Linked DNA regions of Homo sapiens: region 1 is linked to region 2. The links come from fine-mapping of genetic effects on gene expression. Tissue or cell type: whole blood. Region 2 holds a variant in brackets; the other region holds the start of a gene. Each region is shown on its reference strand, or each on the opposite one. Region 1 holds the start of ELL2 (elongation factor for RNA polymerase II 2). Region 2 holds the start of MIA (MIA SH3 domain containing).

Region 1 (14,914 bases), not on the chromosome of region 2:
TCAGGCTGCAGTGAGCTATGACTGAGCCACTCCACTCCAGCCTGGGTAACAGCAGGGGGACCCTGTTTCAAAAAAAAAAAAAAAAGAAATAAAAGAAATAAACAAAGAAGACATATTTACATAAAAACCATTTGTGAATGTTTGTAACAGCTTTATTTACAATCACCCAAAATTGGGTATAATGTAAATATCCTTCAGCTGGCAGCTAAACCGTGAAGGACCCATAAATGGAATAGTATTGAGCAATAAAAAGGAACAAACTACGGGTACCTGCAACAACACGGATGAATCTCAAATGCATTATGCTAAGTGAAAGAAGCCAGACTCAAAAGCCTACATAATGTATGATTCCATGTGTATGACATCCTAGAAAAGGCCAAACCATAGTGATGGAAAATAGATCAGTAGTTGTTAGGGGTTAAGGGTGGGTGGCAGGAAGATCTGACTACAAAGGGACAATGTATTTTCAAGGAGTTCCTTCGAGGAGGTAATAGAATTGTTCTGTTTGTCGAATTTTTGATATAAAATATATACCAAAAAGAGTAAATTTTACTGTATGTAAATTAAAAATACATTTTAAAAAGGTTACCTGAGCTAACACTTAAATATTTTATAGTAAATTTTCTGGGATAATTGTCATTGCAAACTCAAAAGTGCCTTCAAATTTTCTATTTTTAAAGTACATTTCCAATGCCATGCTTCTGTTTTGGCAAATATTCAAAAATTACATTTAATTAATCTGTGCAAGCCTATATGCTTACAATGAGTATGTAAAATATAGGGTAATTTTAAAAACACAAGATACAAACTTTAAAAAAGAGATTCAGGAACCTAAAAATGAGGCAAATATACTTAGTCAATATACCAAGTCAGAATCTATTTAGGAAAGACTTCTTCCTCTATGTAAAAACAAAATTTTTCAACACTTGACAAAGCTAAATCATGATGCTTGGCTTTCTATGCTATTGAAGTTTAATACAATCTGTTGACTCCAGTCTCAGTATACTCATCAGGGGTCACAGTCATAATAGATCATCAACATTATGAACTGTTGTTTTTGAGAAATGTGGATAATCCCCATTAGAGGCTAATACTCTTTTTGCAGGTAAATCAAATTATACCTTATACTTCTTATATTTTTTGTGCTGGTTTAGTTGAGAAATATTGGAGAGAAAAGTCACAATTCAAATACTTGATGCTTTTAAATTATCCAGAATCATTTTATACATGAGTGATTTATTCAAGGCAAAGATTAGAGGGACAGAATCAGAAACAGAGAGCAGTTCTCCTTATTCTCAGTTAATAGCCCAGCTTCTAAAATCAGATCACAGGTTATTAAACACATTTCTATTCATTAGTCATCATTAAAGTTCATTTGCTATGACAATTTGAAAGTGGCCTTATCTCTGTTAGTACTATGCAATAATATCGGCTCTCAGAGATAAATGTATTCCTTTCCTTTTCCAGATGCATAACATTCCCTAGGATCAAACTGAAATGTTGAGTCATTTAGGACAGATAATATTCAGTGCACACTCAGCAAACTTTATTCAATATGTGGCTACTACCAAAAGCAATGATCTTTCATTAAATGCTTGTTGCAAATTATCATTTAAGCTTCACATTGTTCATTATTTACACTGGCAGTACCCTATTTCCAATTCCCAAATGACACAGAGCCTCCTCTGATCATTCATCTCTCTGCTTACTTTCTCCCTAGTAATCTCTTTTGTTCTCTTTACTTTCCAGATCAAAGTGCCTTCAGGCTTCCCAATAACTGCCTACAACAGTGAATGGCCTTTTCTGCCATTCCCAATGAGTAAGGTAAGCAAGGTCAACACATCACGATGGGTGTGCACCGAATAAGTGCAACGCCTAAGGAGTGGTTATTAATTCCAAAGCTTTTTCCTTCACTCAAAAAACATGCGTGAAGCAAGTGACTTAGAGTGATGTTATCACTAGGAAAATCTTGGAAATATACACAGGGATACATGCAAACATCCCTCAAGCATAAGATACCTGTGTTAGTAAGAGTGGCCCACCATAGTCATAATTCTAAATAAGAAGGAAGTGTGTTGCCATTAGAGTGGGCATGAAATTTAGGAATATTCCCCAATTCTTTTTCTCATCCTCTTTCTTCATAACCTCCCTCAGAAAACTTGCTCAATTTCACAATCTCTACTATTACTCAATAGGTTGACTCTGAGGCCTAAGACTCACATTTTCAAATGCCTGCCAGACATTTAATCCACTGATACCGCTAACCTAAACAAGGTCTTTCTCCTGATTCCCTTGTTTCTTTTCATATAATATTATCTTCTAGTAAACCAAACTTGAAGCTAGTAGTTACTTTTAATTCCTCATGCTCATTCACCTCTCATACTCAAATAAAGCTGCCAAATCAGCCAACTCTACCTTCACAGAGCCATGATATTCTTCTCCTTTTCTCCATTCCCATCATTAATACCCTAGTACAAGGCCTCATTACTTTTTGCCTCCTAACTCTGCTCTTTTTTGTCATAATCACTCCCCCTCCACTTGTAGTACCTTATTTCAAATTCCCAAATGATACAGAGCCTCCTCTGATCATTGGTCTCCCCGCTTACTTTCCCCATAGTAATCTCTTTTGTTCCCTTTACTTTCCCAAATCAAAGTGCCTTCAGGCTTCCCAATAACTGCCTACAACAGTGAATCCATTCCAATCCATTACTTATACTTTTGTCACCTGAACAGTCCTAACATATAGATTAGATCATGCTACTTCCTGTTCGGAAGCCTCCAACAGTTCCCCATTGCTCACAGATCGAAGTCCATATTCCTTAACCCAATACTAAAAGCTCTCCTCACAATCTGTCCCCAATCCATCTTTATTGGCTCCATCTGTCACAATCACCTTCGAGCACCACATATTCCTGTGAAAACAGATTACTGTCTTTCCCCCAAAACACCGTATGATAGCTCATAAGATCCTTAAACTTAGAATATTTTAATACTCCCATTATCGCAGATAGAAAACTTTGACATTCCAGTGCTAACTCTTCCATGGAGCTTTTCCCAACACCCTGAGCTGAATATGTTCTCACAATCCATAACTCCTCCATCACTGAATTAGTCCCTGCATAGTGCTTCTCACCTAGTAGGTCTTATCTTCACCTCTTACATCCTCTATTAGACTATACTGCTTGTTTCTAATTCTGTAAATATTCTAACCTATAAGGGTCATATTGGTTTTTAATTTTCCAAAACCCAAGGCAAAAGCAAACGTTCCCAATATTGGAGGCCATAACAGATGCAAAGATCAAAGATGATAAATATGATACTTGAATAAACAGCTGAATGAGAATACAATGAAATCAGCTAGGGCTACAATTCTAAGTCAAAACAAAGAAGTCTTCTGTGTCCGTATGTGTTGATATATTTCTTCTCTGCTTTTTGTCATGACATGTTGTGGAAACCATGTCATAAAGTGAGAGATACAGTCCCGCGGGAAGAGTGATATTATAGGGGATGTGTATTTGACCAAAGATTCCTTATTAAATAAGCGACAGATATGAACAACATGCAATAAAAACAAAGATATATCAACTGTAAATCTTTCCAATAATTTAAAATCATAATCTGAGCTTTTTCAAATGGGCACCTATGCGCTGTGCATATTTGTTATACCAAGGGTTCTAATATATCACAAATTATATATACCACACATAAAAATAGAATTAACTTTCATAAATCTCATTAAAGTCAATATGCTAGCTATAATAAACCAAAGCTGAATGGATCATTTTATTTGCCTTGTTGCTATTTAGAAGGATATTGGGTGTTTGTGTGGAAAGAGTTATTCAAATGACTTAAGTCTTGCTTTCAAGACCAACAAAAAAACCAGCCCCCAACCTGCCCATGGAAGTAGAACCAACCATTTTCTCTTTATTAATTTCACTGTGATAACCTGACACATTCATTATAATTCCTCAGACCTTATAGCCATGTTCAAAGGTAGATATGCGAGATTTGGAAAAGGAAATCTCAGGTTCTAGCCTGGCTCTGTCACTTATCAAGTGAGTGATACATACCCTTTCTGCGCCTCAGTTACCTAAAAGGTAACTATAGTATAAAACAATGGCTACCTCAGAGTTACACAGAAAATTCAGAGATAGTGTAACTAAATTGCTTTTAAACTTCAAAACCCCATCAAGAATAAGCTTTTTTATTTATGTATTAGTCTGTTCTCATGCTTCTAATGAAGACATAAACAAGACTGGGTAATTTATAAAGGTAAGAGGTTTAATTGACTCACAGTTCAGTGTGGCTGGGGAAGCCTCAGGAAACTAACAATCATGGTGGAAGGGGAAGCAAACACGTCCTTCTTCACATGGCGACAGCAACGAGCAGTGCCAAGCAAAGAGGGAAAACTCCTTATAAAACCATCAGATCTTGTGAGAACTCACTCACTGTTAGAAGAACAGTAGCATGGCGGTAACTGTCCCCATGATTCAATTACCTCCCATTGGGTCCCTCCCACAACATTTGGGGATTATGGGAACTACAATTCAGGATGAGATTTGGGTGTGGACACAGCCAAACCACATCAATTTACTTATTTATTTATTTATTTATTTATTTATTTATTTAAAGATAGGGTCTCACTACATTGTCTGGGCTGGAATGCAGTGTCTATTCATAGGAAGGATCATAGTGGACTGCAGCCTCAAACTGCTGGACTCAAAGAATCCTTCTGCCTCAGCCTCCTGAGTAGCTGGGACTACAGTATCACACAACTGCACCTGACAAGAATAAGCTATTATTAATTATCAAAATCATTCTTGAGGCTGATGGCATTTGGTCCACTATTAGCATGTTTAAAAGTGAAAGGCTAAACAAACATTCCCTCCCCACCCCATGTCTTCCTAACTCCTCAGTTTATTCAGAAATACATTTGCTCCTTTTTAGTACAAAACAGCATGGAAATGGTAAGAGTTGTTAGGTCACTCTTTACCACTCTTCTCCTTTTCAGAGCCTATATGATATCTTTCAGGGCACTCTGCACTACACTGAATAGCCATAAAACAATTATCATCTGGGAGAATGGCCACTTTGGTCACTATGCTGGACATAGTTCAGTTCTGTGGACAGGACATTTTCTTCAATCAGGGAAGAAGGGGAGAATTTTCTTGGTGTTTAGAGGAATCAAATCTGAGTCCTTTTGCCTCCAAAGGACATACAACTTTCTAGAGACTGCTCTTAATGTGGAGAAAGGCAAGGAATAGAGAGAGGGGAAAAAAGCTAAAAAGGTATTAATGAAGACTGAGTATCTCCATCTTAGGAAGCTAACGTGCATGTGTATTCAATACATGTGAAAGGAGAGATAGCCCTGGCCACCTAGCCTTCTACTCAGCCCCATTAAGAGTGAAGAAGGGCTTTGAACTGGAAGGGAGGAGGGACTTTCCTTACTTCCAAATCACAATTTTTTTTTTTAAATAACCAGACTCTTCTAGAAAGAGAAAGGAACTTTGGAGACTAAGAAAGTGTACAGGTAGATGTCCCCAGATGGGATAACACCTCCTAATCCTGGGAAGAAGCAGAGGCTGCCAGCCCCAGGAAGTGCACAGCCCAAGTCCAGTGTCCTTTCAGTACCTCAATAAGTATACACCTGGGGAGGGAGGCTTGACTTTGCTGAGGCTAGAACCCCAGGGCTGCCAGTTTCAGCAAAGTTCTCAGATAAGCGATTCCTTTCAGAAAATCATATGGACATGGTCCATCATCATATTACAAGGCTAGGGAGGGTTTTAGCCTCCCTTCTCATAATCCCCATCAGTGCCACTTAACCCTACCCCCATAAAAATACACAACATAAGTAAACACAGTATGTTTGCTCTACAAACACACTTTCAATTCAGGTCCTCTATTTCCTTCTATCTAGGTTGCGCTCCATCCCAAACCCTTCCTAAAAAGAAACTCTTGAGCCTCTAAAGGATTATACCAGCAGAGATGGACCTAGATTAGAGAGCCCTCCCCATATATTCTGGAGCCTTTGTATGACTTGTAAATTAACTGTCCTACTACTCAGATGGGGAACTCAGAGCCAAATTTAGCAATAATGATGATGATGATAATAATAATAATGCAATGTAACATTTCTTGTACTTAGAGTAAATATTCACACAATACAATAAAAATTATTCAACTTAAAACCTGTATTTACATAACAAAATCTATGCCCTAACTATAGGTATCTTACTTTTATTCTCTATGAATATCTGCTGAAGTACTTTTAAAACTATCAAGCTTCCACTTCAATTGTGCCCAAGGCAAGGAAATTTAGTACATTTTAGATTTTAGTACATGGCTGGGCAAAGTCTTGAAGGGAGAGCAGTGTAATGATTGGGTCAAACACAACCATTGCACAAGGGAGCAAGCAGCACTGGGGAAGAGAATTTAAAAGGGAAAGATTTTCTCTCTGGAAATTCTACATTGAGAGAGCTTCTGTGCTATAACTCTATAAGGTTCTATGTTCTCTTTTTGTAACAGAAGCCATTGCCTTGTATTAAGACATTAATAAGAATTAACTTTTTGTATAGATGAGTTTAAGAAATAACCTGCAAAACTGCTAATACAGGTATAAGACAGAATGCCCTTCTGCATTGGCAGTCACTACAGCAGATTTGGAAAACTAGAAACCTGTGGGCTAACTTTGGCCTAAAACTTTTTTAGTGTCCAGAAAATGCTTATTAAAATTTTTAACTTAAGTGTTACAGAATAAATATTAGGAGATTTACATAAAAATCTTTGTTTCTCAGCTTTAAAAAAAAACAGAAGATCTGGCAACATTGGGCCACCTTATGTTCACCTGGCAACAATCAGCTGAACCAAGAAATCACTGAGCCCTTTAAACCTCCCAGCTCACTACCGTCCAGCATCTTCAGTCCCTATGACATTGTATCTGCCCTCTTTCACTCATTTGGATATCCAGTGGTCCCTGAAGGCATCTGAATTGGTGACCTCTGTACCAAAGATGTGAGAAACAGTCATTAAATATGCAGCAACCTGGAATGAGGGGTGGCCCAGCATTTGAATGCCAGAGAAGGCCTTGATAGTCACATATCCTTTGCCAGCACTGTATACTAGACATGAGAGATGGAGCAGGCCCTGCATCAAATTCCTTTTAGCCTTTTTCCTGCACTGAACTGTCTTATATGACAGATTTCTTCTCAGTTATTAAATCTAATCCATAGCTACTCAGTGTATATAAGGACTGGAAGGACATTTAAAGAGCTGATTCCGACCCTGCCTCTCCTGGTTATGTTAGGCAGGTTGCTTTTAAATAAATGGGGGTCTCAGTTCCTCCTTCATAAAACTAATGTGTCCACCTGGAATCATCATGAAGATCATTTTTAGTTGGGCTGTCTCCATCTATACCACCTCCAACTTATCTAGAATCTACTCAACCCTCAAGAGCTGTTCAAGTTCTATCACCTCCATTAAACCTCTTCAGACTTCTCCTTTCTTTGAATTTTTGAGCTTATCACCAACACCGTCCAAATTAGCATTTACTAATTTTCTAATTGCTTTGCTTTGACTATACTGGTTCACTTGCCACACTGAAACAGAAAATTCCTCTAGAGACTTTACAGTTTAATTTTTAAATCCTCTACCGCATGTTATACTTAACTGGTATTCAATGATTATTTAATTATTTAAACCAGATAAAGATACAGAAAATATGTATAAAATGGCAACCTTCCCAAAAAGCACCTTTCATCAGCCTCCTCAAAATAAATTATCCTAACCAGCATCATAACTTGACCATCTGATTCAGGCAGGCGTAATGTGTACTATGCCTGTGAGACATCAATGAAAAGACACTGCTAGATTACCATATTACTTTGTACTTGATCATTTCCTCCTTCCACAGTTGAAAAGCTCAAAAGGGGAAAAATACAAACAACCATTAACTCACTACAATAATATATTAATCCGTGAAAGATTTGTTACCCACTAAAATAGGGCATGAGAAAAATTTTCCTATTATAATTTTTAAAAAAAGTCAATTACTAGTAAGAAGCTACAGGTCAGATATTTGAAAACTACAACGAAAACCATCCTTACTCCTCCCCCACCCGCTTGGATGTCATCAGAAATTCTGAGTAAGAGTAGGCCAAGTTAGGATATCATGTGGGTGGGGATTTACCCACATTCACCGGAAAAGCAGTGGGATACAGGTTTTACTTGTTCCGGTCAAACCTCCCTTCCCCCTCACCTCCCAAATAATTAAGGCTTTAGCTATGTGCTCAGTCCTTTACTATCAAAAAAAAAAAAAAAAAAAGAGAGAGAGAAAAGAAAAGTTCAAGTACAGAATTATTTTTAGATTATAGTCCGCTTAGAGATGAACTATTTGAATAAGGTTTCTACTTTTGGAAAGCGGAGAAAACTAGGTAGTAAAGCCTCTATTTCCCTTCTAAGAGTAAACTTTTTAATCCAATTTGATGATTACCTTAATATCTCTACTACATGAATTTAAGATAACACTGTATCACTAAAGTAAATGAAATTAGCAAGCGTTAATCACGTCTTAACAGCTAGCCAATCTTAGTGGATTGAAATTAAGTCAATTTACAAACTGTTTTCCTGTGATGGAGTAACACTTAATACAGGTGTTTCCACTTAATCCAATTCATTCTGTAATTCACATTATACACCTACTATGTTTGAAGGTCTGAATCAAAAAGGAGTGTACCCGTACGGTGGGGAAGGCATTTATTGGGAGGGGAGGACATGGAATCATGGCCCTAATCCATTTAAAATAATGAAAAATACTGATTAAATATCTATAAACTTTCCCGGGGAATCCCAGTAGAACAGAACATGGTTTTATAAGCTGAGGGTAAAAACAAGCGTCTCAGTTTTTTTATTAAAAGAACTTTTTTAAACTGCCTTTCAACAGTTTGAAAGCTTTCAATGGTTTGTTTTATCTGGTGTTTCTGATCAACCAATTAATCCATCCTCTGACAGGAACCCATCTGTCAGTCTATCCACACACAATCTGAAAGGGACTCCAGATTAGGCTCCCTCTTTTAGCCACGCCTACACAGGAAGCATCCTGTGGATGGAATGGAAAGTATGCCAGGCCTTTGCACGCCCCTCACGCCCCCATCTCCTTCGCTTAACCTCGACAGCCTCTTACCTTTAAACCCTAGCTAGGTTTTCACACAGCCCTATCAAATAAAAAGGACAATACTCAAACTGAATTAGAGAATGAGAATTGTCGAGGTTTCTTTTAATTTAGATCAATGCCAGTTTTACTCTTCTTCTAGAGTCCTTTTTAAGGAGATATCATCCCCACCAGTTGTGATCCCAGAGAATCACAACAGGGCATGGCGTAGGAAAGACCTCGAAGCTCAATTCTCTATTATACCATGCCCACCATACGAAAGGCATTTAACCTCCCGCGTGATTTTGTCCTTAAGATGCTCCACAAGATCTAACACAACTCCTACATCTAAGAGTCGACTCACTAATTTCAAGGGTTTTTGTTTTTGTTTTTGTTTTTATAAGCTCTGCGTGTGGCACCCGATAACTTCAAGTTTAGAGTGAGCAGTTTCCTCCCAATGCCGTTTGCTCAACTACAGTACTAGGAGTTTTGAGGAGCAGCTCTCTAGCGAGTCCTCCTGCTGCGTCCTCCCCCACACGCACGCACCAAGTTCCACAGCTTCCGCAGCCGTCGGGGAACAAAGTCCTTATTTGGTCACGGCCATCCCCTTACATAGTGGAGGTGGAGATCCTCCTCTCCAAGGACCACCCGCGTAGGGCGAGATTCCCCAATTCTGACTTTTCACTACTATCCCCCACAGGGGCGGGGCTCCAACTCCAGGTAACCAGACCAGGCAACCTGGACTTCCAATTAGCAGGGGAGTCCCCAAGCCAGCCTGGCCAATCTCGGCCGGCTAGCCAAGACGACCAGACGTGACGTCAGACATGATTAAGTTGGCGCGTCACCTAGACGTCAGCCTCTTACCTCTCGGACGTCCCGTCCCAGGAGCAAAACTCTAGTGACTTTGGGCCCGCCCCCGTGAGAGTGGAGGGCGGCCGATGAGGGCGGTTCTGAAGGGAACAAGACCAATGAGACGAGCCCGGGGCGGGGCGCGGGGCCGGAGGGTGGGGCGGGTGGCGGCGGTGGCAGTCCGAGGTCTGGCTCCGCGCAGTATATGACAGTACGTCAGCAGCGGGATGGCCCTAGCAGTGGCGGCGGCTGCAGAAGCCCAAGCAGCCGCGGCCGCAGTGGAGGCTAGAGCCGGAGCGGCGGCGGCGGCGGCACCCCGGGGAGTTTAAGATGGCGGCGGGGGGGACAGGGGGCCTGCGGGAGGAGCAGCGCTATGGGCTGTCGTGCGGACGGCTGGGGCAGGACAACATCACCGTACTGCATGTGAAGCTCACCGAGACGGCGATCCGGGCGCTCGAGACTTACCAGAGCCACAAGGTGAGCGGGCCGGCCGGCAGGCTGGGCTCAGAGAGGCAGAGCGCACCCCTCACGGCCTGGCCGCGCCCGGGTGCGGGGCCGGCGGAGCCGTGGCTGGCAGCTGCTACCGTCAGCGCCCGCAGCGGCCAGGCAGGGCAGGGCCGGGCAGGGTGGCTGACGCCGCGGTCCCGGGCTAGCCTGGGCGTTGGGGAAGCGGGCAGTCGGGCGGCCCCTGGCGGCGGGGCCGAGGCAGCCGCAGCCCTGGGTCGGCTGCGCTGCCGCTGCGGGACTTTCCGACGGCCCCCGAGGATTTCCTGGCTTGTTGGGTCCCAAGGAGGGAGAGAGGCCCCGATAAGAGAAGTGAGATGACCACGCTACCCTCGGCGGGGAAGGAGGGTAGCGAGCAGCGTATGGGCAAGGAACCAGGGACGACTCGCGGGCACCAGCTGCCCGCGTTTTCCAGTTACATAGGCACGGTGGATCCTCAGAGACAGGACACAGGCGCTCCGCGTGTGGGGGTGGGACCTTGTATTCCCAGGGACTTGGGGACACAGGCGCTCCACGTATCAGGGGACACACTGTGTGCTCGAAGGGATGGGGACTCGGGCGCATGGTGAGGGGCACACGGTGTACTCATAGAGATAGGGACTTAGGCAGTCCGTGTAAGGGGGCGGCGCACACTGGAACGGCGGGGACACTGGCGCTTCGCGTACGGGGGGGGAGGGGACACACCTGCATTCCCAGGGACTCCGGGACACCGGCGCATCGCGTTACTGGAGACGCGCCGCGTCCAGGACGGACACAAACCAACACAGTGCCCTGGGGAGAGACCTGAGGACTCACGCACACTTAGCGCTCCCCGGGAGCAAGACATCGGGTTCTGGAGAGAGAGGTTCACGGACGCTCAACGTACCCGAAAAAGCTCCCGGCGTCTTGGGCTGACTCTGGGAAGTGTAAACGGGGAACGAGCCAGAGCCAGAAGGTGTGGGGAGGATACAATGCATCCCGGGCAGAGACTCGGGCCTCTCACCCCTCGTTTTCGAGAGAAGCCCATGGACACACACACACACATATACACACACACCCCTCCAGTACAGAGAGAGGCTCAGATAGGCGCACATACACTGTAATTGGACTACAAATCCAGACGCTTTCATGTTGGAAAAAAAATGGGAGAGACAGGGAAGCACCGAGAAGGGACGCGGTAACCAGGGTGCATGGGGAAACAGTTTATGGACATGCAGTACTGTGGGAGACCGGAGTGGATACATCGCGTGAGGGAGGGATATGCCATATGGGGGAACCTGTAACGTTTTACAGGAGAGGAGAGAGTCGGAAGGGAGATAGAACCCACGGGGCATCTTACAAATAGCCCGTTCGGTACTGAGGAACACACTCCAACCGGTCTCGTACAACAGACAGAGGGGCAGAAGGACACCGAGACACAGATTCACATAGTTATTCAGCTAAAAGTGGGGAAAAGAATTGACATCTGTTGAGCTCCCACTAGTGCCAGGCACTTTAAATACATAGAGCGAAGGCAGAGTCTGAGGCAGAGCGGCAGGAGAGGTGTGAACCCTGGTTTACTGGGAGTGTATTCAGAGAGCCCCCCCACCCCATAAGTGTGCACACAGAGGAAGGCATTAGTTGTGCACGCTTTGGATAGAAAATGAACTCACATGATAGGGTATTTGTAAACAGCAGTGGAGGCTCAGAGGTGAGTGTATTGTTAGGAAGGTACTCACAGAATTGGGTGGACACATGAATGTACGTGCTAGGACACTTGTGTTACTAACCAGAGAAGCATATGGTGAAAAGGACTCACAGACTTTGTGTGGTGGGGTGAGGGGGCGTCAGGGAGGAGTGCATGCACAGGGAGAAAGGTACCGTCCTACATACAGTGAAATCTCGAGAGAAAATCTCAAGAATGGCTGGGAGAGATACAAGAAATAGAAAACTGCATGTGCCAATAGCTACTCTTAGATAGGTGCACCTGCAGTGAAGAGACCAGCATCAGACGGAGTGGGAGGCCCATATGGGGGAAGCCAGAAACACAGGCAGAGGGACAGAAGCAGACAGTGGAGAGAAACTCTGGAGAGAAACTCAGCCTTGCAAGATGGAAAGATAAGCTTGCCTGTTCCAAGGGAAGGGCGTGGGAAGGAATGGCAGTGGGAAGAAGGTAGGTCTGGGGATGTGAAGAGAAAACCCAGAGGCCCAGAGAAAAAGAAGTCAGCAGGAGGCGGCCAGCCCCTATTCAGGAGCAGACCCGAGGAGCAGAGAAAGACTTGACACACAGTGGGTGGGAAGAGGCATCTCTGGGGGCAGTAGGTCAGCCAGCTACCTTGGGAAAACAACAGGCAACTGTACAGTTGATTACAGCAAGATTGACAGTGTACACTTGTGGGGAAAGTGGGCAGATGAGGAGGTCCACTTGGGGAAGGGAAAGCGAAGTGACAGTAATTGGTCATGATCTGCATGACCACTGGAGGCCCCAGAAGGGAGTGCTTTGTTTTCCTACCTTTGTATGGCCTTCATTTCTGCTTCCTATACCCTAGTGTTTTCATATTTGGGATTAAGTTTACAGTGCTCTAAAAGCCCCTGCATTTATATACCAGTAGCTTCCAGGAGACAGAAGATCAAAAATTCTTTCTCTGCCAACCCACCACTTAGTTCTTAATTTAAAAAAAAAAAATTACTTTTTAAGAGGTACCAAAGTCGTCAATGTCTTTGTTTGCTTCTGACTGCTTCTAGTACTTTTTCCATTTCTGTACATGCCCATTTATGGGTCTGGTTGGTCTCTACAGAGGCAGCAAAGGGAAAGGAGGAAGACTTTTTCCCAGATCTCTCTACCTTAAAGCATGGAGCCAAGTAGCTTGTATTAGTCCTAGGATTCCTTTTCTCCTGCAAAACTGGTGGTAGAAACAGTGGCATGCGGGGGATGGTACATAAGCTGACCATCCTTAACCAGCTCCTATCAGGACTCACTGTCAGCTCAGCCATGGAAACACTTTTTAAGGGGTGTGGACAAGCAAGCAGGAATTGGAGTGAAACTGTCAACCTCAGTTGGATGAAAACTGGGAAGAAACCAAAAAAATGAGATAGATACCTTTCTGGTGACTGAATGTACCGTTGGTACTTACTGCAGGCTCCACCCACCTGTGTGTCCTCAGTGCCCCTCCTCCTGACTCAGCCAGACCAGTGTACCTCTATGGGCACAGTAAGAGTTGCTAGCAGTAGGCATCTGGCTGAGCTTTTATCCTCCAGTGGAAGGATATTAATTTGGTCTTTCTTGTCTTCCATCGTTATTAGAAATAGGGCTCATGACTTTAAATTGAAGCTGCTGTTTGGGAACATGTTCACATGGATTGGCTAATTGGGAAGAGGTTTCTAGTGGTCAAACCTGTTCTCTCTGGGGGGAAAATGGTTTTAATTTCTCATATAAAACTGTCCGCCACCATTCCTGTACTCATATAGGAGGGTACTTGATGGCAGGTAGCCTCTAAGCAGCTCTGGCCTATGTAAAGTGATGACTATTACTCCTTCTCTTCTAATGACTAAGAGCCAGAAATTTCAACAGGTTAATTTGCTAAATTAAGCATCAGAGAATTCTTTTTTTGTCCAAATTATTTTGTCTATTGGAGTTACCCTTCTAAATTAACCCACTTTGACGTAAGGCTTCAGAGAAGTGAATTTAAAAATTTTAGGAAGCTATGATTTAGGCAGAACAGAGAACTTCTTTAGATGTAATTGAGCAAATTTACAGCGTTCTAAGGGTTTGTGGAAACAGAATATTTGATGAAAATTTTGAAATCTTGTTTTTTTTCAAATTACAATTCCTCACTGTTTCAAAAGACACATAATCCTACTTGACCTTCATTATTCAGGTTCCCTATTTTTAGAGAAGTGATCTTGGGAGCCTTTCTAAACAGGCAGAGGGGCATTGTGAGTCCAGCAATGAGAGTTATAGTTGGAGTAAATATCTTGTAAAAGTTGTTTTGCTACTCACTTTGAATACAGAAATGGTTTCAAGTTGATTGTGTATCATGTTAACTGGAAAGTTATTTTCATGATTGGCAGAAAAATTTAGACATGATAATACAGATATCTACAATATTAACCTTTTAAAATGTAGATTATTTTGAATGAGGAGAAAAGTTGCTAAATAAATAAAATCACAAATTACAACTTTATAGTCATTTTAAATTGTTATCTGTGATTGTGTGGTCTACATAAGCTCTACATATTTTAAATGAGCATATATTACTGTAATTACATATTTCCCCCAAATGGAAAACTATATTTAAAATTAAAATCCAACATTTAAAAATACATTTTAGCTAGGTTCCTCAGTAATGCTGCTGGCTTTATTTTGATGTTTGAGTAACTTACTTTTATAACAAAAACTATATCAAAGCATTATTTTCAGATTTTGTTGCTGAGCCTGTCAGTTTAGTTTTTAAAAAA
Region 2 (15,500 bases):
AGGACCACTGCGGGAAACTCACACTTATTCTCAATGAACTGATGAAGGAGACATGATTTGCCAGTTCCTGCACTGCCAATCACCAGGAATTTGAAGAGGAAGTCTGACCAGATGGAGCCAAAATCAGGGATACCCACAGGGAGAGAAAGATACAGGGAAAAAAGATGGATTCCAATCCAATCTCTCTCTCTAACCATCACAGTTAGAGGGAGAGAAACAGACATAGGCAGAAACAAACCAATAGGTAACAGTAACAGATAACTCTTATGTAGTACTTGCCATGTGCCAGGCACATTCTATATATTTTTTTTCAACTTTTATTTTAGATTCAGGGAGTACATGTGCAGGGGTTTTTTTGTCGTTGTTTTTGTTTTTTTGAGACAGAGTTTCACTTTTCGTTGCCCAGGCTGGAGTGCAATGGCGCGATCTCGGCTCACCGCAACCTCCACCTCCCAGGTTCAAGCAATTCTCCTGCCTCAGCCTCCCGAGTAGCTGGGATTACAGGCATGCGCCACCACACTCAGCTAATTCTGTATTTTTAGTAGAGACGGGGTTTCTCCATGTTGGTCAGGCTGGTCTCAAACTCCCGACCTCAGGTGATCCGCCTGCCTCAGCCTCCCAAAGTGCTGGGATTACAGGCATGAGCCACCGCGCCCAGCCCACATGTGCAGGTTTGTTACATGGGTCAATTGTGTGTTGTTGTGGGCCAGGAACAGTTCTAAAGGTCTTTACTCACATCAACAGCTCACATCATCCTCAGGAAAACTCTATGAGGGAGGTAGACTAAAAATTATTCCCATTTTCCGGATGAGGTAACAGGCCAGAAAGGTTAACTGACTTGCCCAAAGTGACACAGCTGGGCAGAAGTGAGATTCAAACCTAGGCCAAGGGCTCCAGAGTCCCAGATCTTAGCTATTTTGTCGCTAAAGTCTCTTGAAAGCTATTTAAACAAGGACTACGATATAGCCCTTGTTCCTCTTCACCTCCTACCACCCTCTGACTCATTCACTCCACTATAGCTCCTGACCTTCAGTCTATTCCCTGAAAATGACAAGCTGGTTCTCACCTCAGGGTCTTTGCACTCTTCTCCCTTCTCTTCTATATTTGTTGAGTGAATGCGGCTCCCTCTGACTCCTAAACCTGCACTTCCCCTGCCTCCAATCACCACCTCCTATGGTGCATCCCTACTGATTTTCCACTTCCCGACCTCTCCTTCCCTCCCTCTGCCCAGAACCCGGCTCCATTCTCATGCATAAGTCCCACCCTTTGCCACTAAGTCCTGCCCCTAACTCAAGGACAGCCCATCCCCAAACCCATTCCAGAGCTCTCTCCAGCCAGATCAGCCCCAGGGTCCCGAGCTTCCATTCAGTGTTCCCTCTAGCCCATAAGCCCGACTCCTGCCATTCATGCAGTCAGCCCCGCCCCTTCACTCAGGCTCCGCCCAGATCCATTAAGGCCCACCTCTTCCCTCAGGGCCTCCCTGAACCCCTCAGGACCAGCTCCCTCAAATCCCGCCCCAGATCTATTTAACCCACGCACCAGACCCTCAGGCTCCACCTAAATCGATTAAGCTCAGCCTCAGACCCACTAAACCCCTCCCAGCATCCACTTAGGTCCTGCCTCCATCACACCAGACCCCGCCCCCTGATCTACAAAGCCCCGCCCATTCCCACAGGCCGCATCCTCCCTGGGCCCAGACCCAGGACCCCAGCTTCGTCCACCACCCTCACCGTAGGTCTCAGCCATGACTCGGTCGCGGCCGCTGAGGGCCGCAATATGGCGCCGCGGCCGCGCCTGCTCCTCGGCTGGCAGCCGCTCCACTCCGGCTACAGCCCCGGCTCCTTCCTACTCCCCGGGCCCGGCACCGCCACTTCCGCCTCCGCCCCCCTCCGGCGCGACCCGCTCCGGCAGCTGGATACCAGGCGACGCTTTCCGAAGGGCGGGATTGGCGGACTCGCGGGCAGGGGGCGGGACAAGAGGCGCGGATTGGTGGCGTGAGAAGGACCAAGCCCAAAGGGGCGGGGCCGAGCCCAGCGATTGGCTGAGCAAGTGGGAAGGGACGTGCAGAGCTGCTTAGCTGAGCCGAGGAACGGATTTAGTCTGGAGTACGGGGGGCAGAGTCGAGTCTCCGGATTGGATCGGAGCGGACTTGGGGGAGGGGATACAAATGCAAAGAAGGGGGCACGGGCAGGATTGACAGAAAGAGGCTGGAAGAGGAGCTGATCTTGAGCTGGCGGGAGCGATTACTGTTCTCAAAGGCGAAAAGGAGGAAAACTGGGCAGATAGGCGCAGGTTACTTCCCACCTCCCTTTCCAGATAATCTTCCAAGAAAACCTTTACTGTGCGATTTATATCCTCCGCGTAGTCCGATTGGCTCCCTCCCACTGGTCTAGAGAGGACACTACAATCCCCTAGTTGGGCTGCTTAGGTTTTCCTTTGCTTGTGTCCGAAACCTAAGCTTAGGAGCGCTCCTACTGCACAGGGCTTTCATCAGTGAAACTCTGCCTAGCAACCACTGACGTTACCACAGGCAGCGGGTTAATTGGTTAGATTCAGCAACCTAGAGAAACATTTCATTTGTACAGTCCCCACCCTACCCTACCCCACCCCAAAGACCACGGAGACGAGCCGTTTGCACTGGGCTGATTGTATTTGCATAAAGCCAAGGAGGGGAAACGGCAGGGCCAGCGGTAGGCTGAGCTCACTGGCAGTAGAAATCCCATTTCTGAAAAAGAGAAAGGGGAAACAGTGGAAAGAAAACCAGCGGTCACACCACAAAGGATCTAGTGGTTTTAGCAAAGGCTGCAGCTGCAGGGCCCAGGTCTGGCCACACAAGTGCTATGCAAATTAGCCTAGAGCCCTCTAATCTTTGCACCTCCCAACTGGACCCATTTTACTGGTGAGAAAATTGAGGCAGGGAAAGAATTTCTCCCAGCGCACATACCTAGGCTGCCAGGGAGCCAAGTGTGGGAGCATTTTTGCCCATCCCCACAACCTAAGGGTCCTCCCCCCACATTTCTTGCCAGCCCCCATGACACTCACGTCTGTCTTCACATCGACTTTGCCAGGTTTCAGGGTCTGGTCCTCTCGGACAATGCTACTGGGGAAATAGCCCAGGCGAGCAGCCAGATCTCCATAGTAATCTCCCTGAACCTGGGGAAGAGGAGTTAAAAGCTAGGGTCTGGGAAGATGGCAAGCTTGTGCCTGCTGAAGGCCTTTGCATTCTCCCTTCTCCCTGATCTCCACATAACTGCTCCATCCTTGTCATATGAATCTCAGCTTAAATGCCACCTGTTCAGAGGCCCTTTCTGAACACCCAAGTAAGTCTCTGTTAATTCTCACAGCAGCGCATATTTGCTTTTATTATTATTATTATTTTGGAAACAGGGTCTCATTGTGTCGCCCAGGTTGAGGTGCAGTAGCATGATCACGGCTCACTGCAGCCTCAACTTCTGGGATCAAGCAATCCTCCCACCTCAGCCTCCCGAGTAGCCGGGACCACAGACACATGCCATGAAGCCCAGTTAATTTTAAATTTTTTTTTATAGAGATGGGGGTCTTGCTATGTTGCCCAGGCTGGTCTCGAACTCCTGGGCTCAAGCTATCCTCCCAACTTGGCCTTACTTGGGATTACAGGTGTGAGCTACTGTGCCCGGCTGCTGCTATTTTTTATGCCTTGCTTTTTGTTCATTTCCCTCCATTAGAATAAAAAGGATCATTTGTTGTTGTATCTTGGTGTCTAGAACAGAACGTGGGACCATATCAGGTCCTAAAATTGGTAAATAAAGTGAAAATAGGCTGGGGGGCAGTGGCTCACACCTGTAATCCCAGCACTCCGGGAGGCCAAGGCGGGCAGATCATGAGGTCAGGAGTTCAAGACCAGCCTGGCCAATATGGTAAAACCCTGTCTCTACTAAAAATACAAAAATTAGCCAGGTGTGGTGGTGCATGCCTGTAATCCCAGGTACTTGGGAGGCTGAGGCAGGAGAATCGCTTAAACCCAAGAGGTGGAGGTTACAGTGAGCCGAGATCGTGCCATTGCACTCCAGCCTGGGTGACAGAGCAAGACTCTGTCTCGGAAAAAATTAAAAAATAATAAGCAAATAAAATAAAGTAAGTAACAATATCCCCCCACAATGTCTATTTCAGTTCACCCCCCTCAAATCTTCCCTTCATGGGGATAATGAGTCTACCCCAGCTCTGTACCCTTCCCTCTTTCACTCTCCCAAGACTCACGCTGCCTCCCCAGAAGAGCCGCCCACGGCCCTTCAGCTTGGAGAAGACATACACCACTTGGCCCCGGTGAATGGTCAGGAATCGGCAGTCGGGGGCCATGTAGTCCTGAAGGGCCACAGCCATGGAGATAGGGTCTAGGGAAGGAATAGAAGGGAATGCAGCACCCTCCACACAGGCTAACGCCCAAGCCCCCAATTCTCCCCTCCCCATTCTTACGGCTGCACTCCTGGTCCGCACACAGCTTCCGGTCAGCCAGCTTGGGCATAGGACCACCCCTGACACCAGGTCCGGAGAAGGCAGACAGCAAGATGATGACACCAAGGCACACCAGGGACCGGGCCATCGTGGACTGTGAGCAAGAGAGTGAGCAAGGGGGTGCTGGGGTCTCCAATTTCCTCCCCTCCCTCTCTCCCGTAGTACAAGGAAACTTGTGTTCTTGGTCTTGTCCCCGCCCTAAACCAGTCCCAAACTTCGCCCACACCACCTAGAAGTTGCTATGAAACCAGAACCATTTCAAGGATAGGGTAAAGGCTGTAAGCCCAAGGAAATTCCCAGATAAGGTCCAAAGCAGCTCACAACTTTCCCAGTGACAGCCCCCTCCTCAACAATCACAGAGGCCTAGATAAGGTGGTTGAAATATTCAATTCCATCTTCTCTTGAGTTGGCTTAGGTACCTGGGCTCCTCCGCTGTCCCCTCTGGCCACAGAAGCGGAGGAGCCTGTAAAGAAAACCACCTTGGAATTTCCTGTGCTGTGGGGCAGGAGAACAAGGCAGCCCTTTGATTACCAGAAACAGCCCAGCCCTTGAGTACTGACTGAATATTGTATGCTGAACCTTAGGCTAGGCAAAGTCCCACCATGATCACTATTCCTCTGCACCAGACGCTTCCCACTGGATGACCTGGGCTAAGCTATTTCTCCTCACAAAGCCTCAGCTTCCTTATATGTAAAATGGGAACAATAAAAAAGCCAATAGTTACAGAGCATTCACCAAGTACATATTTATGTTATGAACTCAAATGGATACTCTGTATCATGTCAGGAGGAGTGATTATAACCCCTCCCTTTTTTTTCTTTTTTGAGACAGGGTCTCACCCTGTTGCCCAGGTGGAGTGCAATGGTGCCATCCCGGCTCACTGCAGCCTCAACCTCCTAGACTCAGGCAATCCTCCCACCTCAGCCTCCTGAGTAACTGGGACTACAGGCACAAGCCACCTATGCCCAATTAATCCATTTTTTTAAATAATTATTTTGAGGTAGAGTCTTGCTCTGTTGCCCAGGTTGGAGTGCACTGGCATGATCCTGGTTCACTGTAGCCCCTATTTCCTGGGCTCAAGCATTCCTCCCACCTCAGCCTACCGAGTAGCTGGGACCACAGACATGTACCATTATGCCCAGTTAATTTTTTGTATTTTTTGGTAGAGCCGGGGTTTCGTCATGTTGCCCAGCCTCGTCTCAAACTCCTGGGCTCAAGCAATCTGCCCACCATGGCCTTCCAAAGTGCTGGGATTACAGGCATGAGCCACCAAGCCCAGCCTAATTTAATTTTTTGAGACAGGATCTTGCTGTTGCTCAGGCTGAAGTACAGTGATGTGATCATAGCTCACTGCATCCTCAAACTCCTGGGCTCAAGAAATCCTCCCCTCTCAGCCTCTCGAGTAGAATAGTAGGCAAGTCACCATTCTTGGATGATTTCTTTTATTTTTATTTTTCTAGAGCCAATGTCTTACTGTGCTGCCTGGGCTGGTCTTGAACTCTTGTCCCCAAGTATCCTCCCGCCTTGGCCTCCCAAAGCACTGGGATTACAGGCATGAGCCACCAATGCCTGGCCTATAACCCCTTGTTACATGGAAATGGAAGTGTGGAGTTAAGGAACTTGTCTAAGGCTTACAGAGCCAGGAAGTGGAGAAGTGGAGAGGCTAAGACTTGTATCCAGGCCCACAGCCATTGCTATGCTATCTTTTTTTTTTTTTCTTTTTTTTCTTTGAGATGGAGTCTCATATTGCAGTGGTACAATCTCAGCTCACTGCAACCTCCACCTCCCGAGTTCAAGCAATTCTCCTGCCTCAGCCTCCCGAGTAGCTGGGATTACAGGCATGTGCCACCATGCCCGGCTATTTTTGTATTTTTAGTAGAGACAGGGTTTGTCCATGTTGGCCAGGCTGGTCTCGAACTCCCCACCTCAGGTGATCCACCCGCCTCGGCGTTCCAAAGTGCTGGGATTATAGGAGTGAGTCACCGCGTCTGGCCTGAAAGATTTTTTTTTTTTTACAGGCAGGGTCTCACTCTGTCACCCAGACTAGAGTGCAGTGCCACAATCACAGCTCACTCAGCCTTGAACAACTGGGCTCAAGCTATTCTCCCACCGCAGCCTCCTAAGTAGCTGTGACTATAAGTGTGAGCCACTGCACCTGGCTTTGAAATGCAATTTCTTTTTTTTTTTTTTTTTTTTTGAGACATTGTTTCGCTCTTGTCACCCAAGCTGGAGTGCAATGGCACGATCTTAGCTCACTGTGACCTCCCCCTCCCGGGTTCAAGTGATTCTCCTGCCTCAGCCTCCCAAGTAGCGGGGATTACAGGCATCTGCCACCATGCCCAGCTAATTTTGTATTTTTAGTAGAGATGGGGTTTCACCATGTTGGTCAGGCTGGTGTCAAACTCCTGACCTCAAGTGACCCACCCACCTTGGCCTCCAAAAGTGTGGGGATTACAGGTGTGAGCCACCGCACCCGGCCCCACTTTAAAACACTCTTTAAAAAATTATTTCTTCATTCAGGCCAGACATGGTGGCTCACTCTTGTAATCCCAGCACTTTGGGAGGCTGAGGCAGGCGGATCACTTGAGGTCAGGAGTTTTGAGACCAGCCTGGCCAACGTGGTGAAAATACAAAAATTAGACAGGCATGGTGGCACACACCTGTAGTCCCAGCTACTTGGGAGGCCGAACCAGAATCACTTGAAACTGGGAGGTGGAGGCTGCAGTGAGCCAAGATCACGCCACTGCACTCCAGCCTGAACGAGAGAGTGAGACCCTGTCTCAAAAAAAAAAAAAAAAAAATCCGCCGGATGCAGTGGCTCACACCTGTAATCCCAGCACTTTGGGAGGCTGAGGTGGGTGGATCACCTGAGGTCAGGAGTTCAAGACCAGCCTGGCCAATATGGTGAAACCCTGTCACTACTGAAAAATACAAAAATGAGCCAGGCATGGTGGCGCATGCCTGTAGTCCCAGCTACTCAGGAGGCTGAGGCAGAAGAATTGCTTGAACCTGGGAGGTGGAGGTTGCAATGAGCCAAGATCATGCCACTGCACTCCAGCCTGGGTGACAGAGTGAGACTCTGTCTCAAAAAAAAAAAAAATCATTTCTTCATTCATTGAAGATTTCATGAGTACATAAAGTATCCTAGGACTTAATCCAGACCCTGGAGATTCATCAAGGAATGAAAATTAAAGGGGAGATAATCAATGAACAAAGTTCAGATATATGATAGTGTGTGAAGTATTAAGGATACTCAGAAAGAACACTCAAGAATCAGCTGTGGGAACCGTGCCCCCTGCCCCATATTACTGATGAAGCCACAAAGAAATAGAAGTGACTTCAATTCCCAAAGCACAGTGCATGTATCTCCTGCTGCATAATTAGCCTAAGACCAACATTGCCCCAGTGCAGTGGCTCATGCCTGTAATCCCAACACTTTGGGAGGCTGAGACAGGAGGATTGCTAGAGCCTAAGAATTTGAGACCAGCCTAAGTAACACAGGGAGACCCTTGTAC[C/T]TACAAAAAGAAGAAAAAAAGAGAAAAACTAGCTGTGCATGGTGGTACAAACCTGTAGTCCCAGCCACTCAGGAGGTTGAGGTGGGAGGACCACTTGAACCCAGGATGTAGAGGCCGCAGTGAGCCATGATCGTGCCACTGCACTCTAGAGCAAGAACCTGTTTAGAAAAAAAAAGACCAAAATTATCACCTTTTCTGTGGGTCGAATGTCTCAGGCTTAAGGTCTGCTATAAGGCTGCAATCAGCCTGTCAGCCAGGGGTGCAGTTTCATCTGAAGGCTGAATGGTGGGAGGACTGCTTCCAAACTCATTCAGGCAGCTGTTGGGGAGATGCAGTTGCTTGTGGGAACTGGACTGAGGGCCTCTGTCCTCAGTTTTCTTGACACGTGGACCTCTACAGACAGCTTGAGAGGTGAAGATGGCTGGGCCTCTGGGCCGGTGAGGACTTGGAGAACTTTTCTGTCTACCTAAAGGATTGTAAATGCACCAATCAGCACTCTGTGTCTAGCTAAAGGTTTGTAAACACACCAATCAGTGCTCTGTGTCTAGCTAATCAGGTAGGGGACTTGGAGAACTTTTCTGTCTAGCTAAAGGATTGTAAATGCACCAATCAGCGCTCTGTGTCTAGCTAAAGGATTGTAAGCACGCCAATCAGCGCTCTGTGTCTAGGTAAAGATTTGTAAACGCACCAATCAGCTCTCTGTAAAAACGGACCAATCAGACTCTGTAAAACAGACCAATCAGCACTCTGTAAAATGGACCAATCAGCTATCTGTAAAATGGATCAATCAGCAGGATGTGGGTGGGACCAAATAAGGAAATAAAAGCAGGCCACCCTAGCCAGCAGCTGCAACTGGCTCAGGGCGCCTTCCATGCTGTGGAAGCCTTGTTCTTTTGCTCTTTGCAATAAATTTTGCTGTTGCACATTCTATAGGTCCACATTATCTTTATGAGCTGTAACACTCACCGCGAAGGTCTGTGGCTTCACTCCTGAACTCAGCATAGACTACAAACCCACCAGAAGGAAGAAATTCCAGATACATCTGAACATCTGAAGGAACAAACTCCAGGCACACCATCTTTAAGAACTGTGACACTCACTGCGAGGGTGCATGGCTTCATTCTTGAAGTCAGCGACGCCAAGAACCCACCAGAAGGAACCAATTCCAGACACAAGCTCACAACGTGGCAGCTGGATTTCCCAACAGCAAGACAGAGGCCAGTCTTTGTACCCACCCTTTGTACTCTTCCTCCATATTGCAGCCACAGGAGCAGGGCCACTGAGAAGCACAATTTTTTTTTTTAATTTTTTAAAATTTTGAGACAGAATCTCACTCTGTCGCCCAGGCTGGAGTGCAGTGGCATGATCTCGGCTTACTGCAACCTCCGCCTCCCGGGTTCAAGCAATTCTGCTTCAGCCTCCAAGTAGCTGAGACTACAGGCACGTGCCACCATGCCTGGCTAATTTTTGTATATTTAGTAGCGACGGGTTTCACCATATTCACCACGCTGGTGTCGATCTCCTGACCTCAAGTGATCTGCCCACCTCAGCCTCCCAAAGTGCTGGGATTACAGAGGTGAGCCACCGTGCCCGGCCTCTTTTTTTTCATCTCTCACCTCCAAAGTGTGCTTCGGAGATCCACAGGCTAAGCGTCCTTCTCCAGAGGGTCCACGTTGCTCCCAGGGACCCTCACCTCTAGACTGGCAAGTCCAAGCTTTTTTTAGAAGAGGATGGACACACACAGGCTTGGGGCCAGGGAAGAGTTTGTCAGGGATGAAGACTAGGTCTGTGCCATGTCTACAAACCCAACACCAAGCACCATGAGCTCAGCTCAAATGCACCTTCTCAGAAGGGTTTTCTGGACCACTCATTACTGTTCCCAACCCCATCACCCGCTTCACATCAGGATTTTTTTTTTTTTTTTGGAGTCTTGCTCTGTCACCCAGGCTGGAGTGTGCAGTGCCACTGCACCTCCATCTCACTGCAACCTCCACCTCCAGGTTCAAGTGATTCTCCTGCCTCAGCCTCCCAAGTAGCTAGGATTACAAGCATGCACCACCACGTCTAACTAATTTTGTTGTTGTTGTTGTTGTTTTGTTTGTTTGTTTTTTTGATACAGAGTCTTGCTCTGTCGCCCAGGCTGGATTTTGGAGTGCAGTGGCGCGATCTCGGCTCACAGCAAGCTCCACCTCCCGAATGGCTCACGCCATTCTCCTGCCTCAGCCTCCCAAGTAGCTGGGGCTACAGGCGCCCGCCACCACACCCGGCTAATTTTTTTGTATTTTTAGTAGAGACGGGGTTTCACCGGGTTAGTCAGGATGGTCTCGATCTCCTGACCTCGTGATCCGCCCGCCTCGGCTTCCCAAAGTGCTGGGATTACAGGCATGAGCCACTGCGCCCGGCTGTTGTTGTATTTTTAGTAGAGAGAGTGTTTCAGCATGTTGGCCAGGATGGTCTCGTACTCTTGATCTGAAGTGTTCCACCCACCTCAGCTTCCCAAAGCGCTGGGATTACAGGTGTGAGCCCCTGTGCCTGGCCCAGCCTAGGTTGTTTTTTGTTTGGAGATGGGGTCTCACTCTGTCACCCAGGCTGGAGTGCAGTGGCACCATCATAGCTCCCTGCAGCCTTGAACTGGGCTCCAGTGAACCCCCTGGGTCAGGCTCCCAACTAGCATGCCACCACTCATGGCTAATTTTTAATTTTTTTTTTTTTTTTGTAGAGATGAGGTCTCACTTTGTTGCCCAGGTTGGTCTCCTTGCCTCAAGCGACCCTCCCACCTCGGCCTCTCAGTATGCTGGCCCCACCACATCAGTTTTGTTTTCATCACAACACAATACTGGAAATTCTCTATTTTATTAATCACTGCATACCTTGTCCCTACAAAAGTATGCAGCACACAATAGGTACCCAGCAAATATTTGCTGAACTTATTGAGTGCTTGCTAAGTGACTGAAAGGGAGAGAGTGTGTGCTAGGGGATGGGTAATGAGTACAAACATCATCATGGTATTAATATAGAGGGACTACTCTTTACACAGGAAGTAAACAAAACTCAGACTGGGGACATCAACTGCCCATGGGCTAACAGCTATGAAGTCCCCAGAAAGCAGAAACCAGGACCAGCTGACCACGGAACGCACATACTTAATAGCCAGTAGGCCTGTGGTTGCCAGTATGGTGGGCGAGATGTTTCCCCTTGCCTGTCAGCAATAAACGTCATTTACTGCAGAGGGCAATTCCTGTCGTTCCCATCTTTCCCATCACAAGTGGAGGAGGTCTGCATGGGGTGCCCTGTATCTTCACTGCTTTTAATATTGACATTCCTCGTGAACAGGGAGAGCAGGGCATGAGCAGGATTGGGCCTAGAGCCTTGGCAGGAAAATAAGAATTTAGTATGTTTAGCCAGGCACAGTGGCTCACGCCTGTAATTCCAGCACTTTGGGAGGCCGAGGTGGGTGAATCATTTGAGGTCAGGAGTTTGAGACCAGCCTGGTCAACTTGGTGAAACCCCGTCTCTAATAAAAATGCAAAAATTAACCGGGCATGGTGGCGGGTGCCTGTAGTCCCAGCTACTCAGGAGGCTGAGACAGGAGAATTGCTTGAACCCAGGAGGCGGAGGTTGCAGTGAGCCAAGATCATGCCATTGCACTCCAGCCTGGGTGACAGAGTGAGGCTCTGTCTCAAAAAAGAAAAAAAAAAAGCCCGGGCGCGGTGGCTCACACCTGTAATCCCAGCACTTTTGGAGGCCAAGGCAGGCAGATCACCAGGTCAGGAGTTGGAGACCAGCCTGGCCAATATGGTGAAACCCTGTCTCTACTAAAAATACAAAAATTAGCCAGGTGTGGTGGCATGCACTTGTAATCCCAGCTACTCAGGAGGCTGAGGCAGGAGAATCGGGACGCAGAGATTGCAGTGAGCAGAAATCGCGCCACTACACTCCAGCCTGGGTGACGAGCAAAACCCCGCCTTAAAAAAAAAAAAAAATTAGCCAGGCATGGTGACGGGTGCCTGGAGTCCCAGCTACTCAGGAGGCTGAGGCAGGAGAATCGCATGAACCTGGGAGGCGGAGGTTGCAGTGAGCTCAGATCATGCCACTGCACTCCAGCCTGGGCAACAGAGCAAGACTCCATCTCAAAAAACAAGGAAAAATTTAGTATGTTTTACTGTATTCATGTATGTATGTATTTATTTTGAGACAGAGTCTCACTGTCACCAGGCTGGTTGATTGCAGTGGTGCAGTCTCGGCTCACTGCAACCTCCGCCTCCCATGTTCAAGCGATTCTCGTGCCTCAGCCTCCCAAGTAGCTGGGGTTACAGGCACGCGCCTCCACGCCCAACTAATTTTTGTATTTTTAGTAGAGACAGGGTTTCACCATGTTGGCCAGGATGGTCTCGATCTCCTGACCTCGTCATCTGCCCACCTTGGCTCCCAGAGTGGTGGGATTACAGGCGTGAGCCACCGCACCTGGCCTACTGTATTTAGTGGTAGATCTACTTTTTGCCAAAAGATTGCCTTTTTCCATGTACCTGGTGTGAGAAAGGGTCTTAAGTAATATGCGCATGCGCATATATATATATATACACACACACACACACACACACACTTTTTTTTTTTTTTTTTTTGAGATGGAGTCTCACTCTTTTTGTCATCCAGGCTGGAGTGCAGTGGTGCAATCTCGGCTCACTGCAACCTCTGCCTCCCAAGTTCAAGCAATTCTTATGCCTCAGCCTCCCAAGTAGCTGGGACAAGTGTGTACCACCATGCCCAGCTAATTTTTTTTTTTTGAGACAGATTCTTGCTGTTGCCCAGGCCAGAGTGCAATGGCGTGATCTTGGCTCACTGCAATCTCCACCTCCCGGGTTCAAGCGATTCTCCCTCCTCAGCCTCACGAGTAGCTGGGATTGGCACCCGCCACCCGTGCCTGGTTGATTTTTGTATTTTTGTAGAAACGGGGTTTCACCATGTTGGCCAGGCTGGTCTTAAACTCCTGACCTCAGGTGAGCCACCCACCTCGGCCTCCCAAAGTGCTGGGATTACAGGAATGAACCACCACGCCTGGCCAATTTATTGTATTTTTAATAGAGATGGGGTTTCACCATGTTGCCCAGGCTGGTCTTGAACTCCTGAGCTGAGACAACCTGTCCACCTCGGCCTCCCAAAGTGCTAGGATTATAAGCGTGAGTCACAGCACCGGGCCATGTGCATATTATTTTTGGTCAATTTAAAATTCCCCAGGACAGGGATGTGACAAACTCCTAAGGATGGTCCCCCCAACCAATCTCCCTTCCCTTTTTTTTTTGAGACGGAGTCTCACTGTCACCCAGGCTGGAGTGCAATGGCACGATCTTGACTCACTGCAACCTCCGCCTCCTGGGTTCAAATGATTCTTCTGCCTCAGCCTCCTAAGTAGCTGAGATTACCGGAGCACACCACCACGCCTGGCTAATTTTGTATTTTTAGTAGAGATGGGGTTTCTCCATGTTGGCCAGGCTTGTCTTGAACTCCTGGCCGCTGGTGATGCGCCCGCCTCGGCCTCCGAAAGTGCTGGGATTACAGGTGTGAGACACCACGCCTGACTCAACCTTTTTTTTTTTTTTTTTTTTTTTTGAGTCTCGCTCTGTGGCCCAGGCTGGAGTGGAGTGGCTCAATCTTGGCTCACTGCAGCCTCCCCGTCCTGGGATCAAGCAGTTCTCCTGTCTCAGCCTCCTGAGTAGTTGGGATTACAGGCACGCACCCCTATGCCCAGCTAATTTTTTTTGTATTTTTAATAGAGACGGGGTTTCACCATGTTGGTCAGGCTGGTTTGGAATTCCTGACCTCGTCATCTGCCCACCTCGGCCTCCCAAGGTGCTGGGATTATAGGCGTGAGCCACCCTGCCCAATCTCCCTTTCTAATCCAGAGCTGCAGCTGGGTTTGTGGCTGTACAGCCAGAAGTCACATATCCTAGACTTCCCTGCAGCTAGACACTGCAGGGGAATTGGGGTCAGGCACCTGCCTGAAGCTCCTGGCTGGCCACTGGCCAGGAAAGTAGATCACCTGTGTGTGAGGCGGCCACACCCCTCATACCAGCATCAAGTCAGTAGCTTCCCAGGAGTGACCAAATGAGTCCAGGCACTGCCGGAAGCCAGAGTGGCATCCCGCTGAACTCTAGCTAGGAGCTCATTCGGGGGCTGCAAACTCGAACTCAAGAGTCTCAAACCCAGACCGCCACTCCTACCACCCACACGCCCCATGATTTCAGCAGCACCAAGTTTCCTGTATTAAATTCCTTTCTGTTTGAACTACCTACTGTGGTTTCTCTGGGGCCATTGCTACAACAGGCTGCACTTTTGAGAAGAGTAAAAAAAAGGTGAAGAAACACCTCTCCCTGAACACTCTTGTCATCTGTTAGAAAAGTGGTGGCATAAACTTGTAAGCCTACAAAGTGAATGGTGTGCCCTTAAAAGGTGCCATTCTTGTGCAGTACCCATCCTGCCTAACTGTACGCGGCAGCCCTGACTTTCCATTTCCTGACCCAGGATTCCATTTCCTGCTGTGAATTGGGACAACATACAAAACTGCCAAAGTAGTCATTGTAACCTGAGTTTGAACAATATTACTACACTATCCTATGTTTCCCCAAGGTTGCAAACCTCAAAATGCCAAGAGGTCCAAAAACCCAGGATGTGCTGCTGAGGTGGAGGGAAAGGAACCATGAAGAGCAAGAAAATCAGACAGACAAATGATTGTGAAAAACCAAACCTCAAAAAGCCACTTTAATTCCGGCCTAACAGCGCCAGGTGCAATGTCTGGGGACAGACTCTGGGTACAATGCTGTGTGGCGACCACTCACTCACACACGGCTCCAAGAAGGCCCCCAAGGGGGGACTTACCTTCAGGGGGCTGAGCCAAGGGGGAAAGGGGTGGCCCCAGAACAGGGGAAGGGGCAGGCATGGGGGGAAAAGGTGCTACTTCTTGGCAAAGGAGATCTTCATGGCGTTGTTCTGCGTGATCTTAAAGCCCTGCAGGGCATCGCGAGCTGCCCCTGCCTGTACCTCATTGTCAAACTCCACGAAGGCGATGTCATGCCGCCCGGGTACCAGACGGACCTCCTTGAAGCCAGGGAACCTGAAAGAGAACGACAGACCTCAGGGACTCAGCATTTCCCCCTAACGTAACGGCATCAAGTGGACAGAGGCCAGAAATGATGCCAAATAGCCTCCAATGCACAGGGCAGGGCCCCATTACTCAGAATTATCCAGCCCAAAATGCAGATAGTACTAAGTTGAAAAACTCTAATGTAAACATAGCATTTAATGAAAAATTTAAACACAAACACCCATGCAACTGCAACCTAAATCAAGAAACAGTACACCGCAGTCTCCTGGGCCCTTCCTAAATCATAACCCACCCGCCACACCAAAAAAATAACCAATACCCTCACTTTTTCCATTTTTATTCTTGTATTTTTAGGAGAGAAGGGGTTTCACCAAGTTGCCCACATTGGCCTCGAA

Evidence for each region. PIP is the estimated chance that this variant, and not a neighbour inherited with it, causes the effect.
Region 1: it holds the start of ELL2, and the variant in region 2 is fine-mapped to the expression of ELL2 in whole blood (TOPMed, PIP 0.99).

The regions. Positions count from the first base shown.
Region 1 is chr5:95,957,132-95,972,045 of GRCh38, reverse strand. It overlaps ELL2 (elongation factor for RNA polymerase II 2), which reads left to right and starts at 10,195. Exons shown (of 12, transcript NM_012081.6): 1 at 10,195-10,471. The coding sequence starts at 10,325. It overlaps LOC101929710 (a long non-coding RNA gene), which reads right to left and starts at 10,045. Exons shown (of 5, transcript NR_130776.1): 1 at 10,010-10,045. It also overlaps a transcript of CAST not described here. RefSeq lists silencers at 9,639-10,106, 10,062-10,301, 10,372-10,781 and an enhancer at 9,586-10,343.
Region 2 is chr19:40,764,622-40,780,121 of GRCh38, reverse strand. It overlaps MIA (MIA SH3 domain containing), which reads right to left and starts at 4,601. Exons shown (of 4, transcript NM_006533.4): 1 at 4,453-4,601; 2 at 4,237-4,370; 3 at 3,043-3,153; 4 at 2,632-2,725. The coding sequence starts at 4,579. The coding sequence ends at 2,702. It overlaps MIA-RAB4B (MIA-RAB4B readthrough (NMD candidate)), which reads right to left and starts at 4,585. Exons shown (of 10, transcript NR_037775.1): 1 at 4,453-4,585; 2 at 4,237-4,370; 3 at 3,043-3,153; 4 at 23-103. It overlaps SNRPA (small nuclear ribonucleoprotein polypeptide A), which reads right to left. Exons shown (of 6, transcript NM_004596.5): 6 at 14,733-15,114. The coding sequence ends at 14,955. RAB4B (RAB4B, member RAS oncogene family) reads right to left here and starts at 1,875. Exons shown (of 8, transcript NM_016154.5): 1 at 1,731-1,875; 2 at 23-103. The coding sequence starts at 1,746. It also overlaps RAB4B-EGLN2. RefSeq lists enhancers at 273-804, 1,692-1,761 and silencers at 1,822-2,061, 2,612-2,741. The variant C/T (reference allele first, on the strand shown) is at 8,007.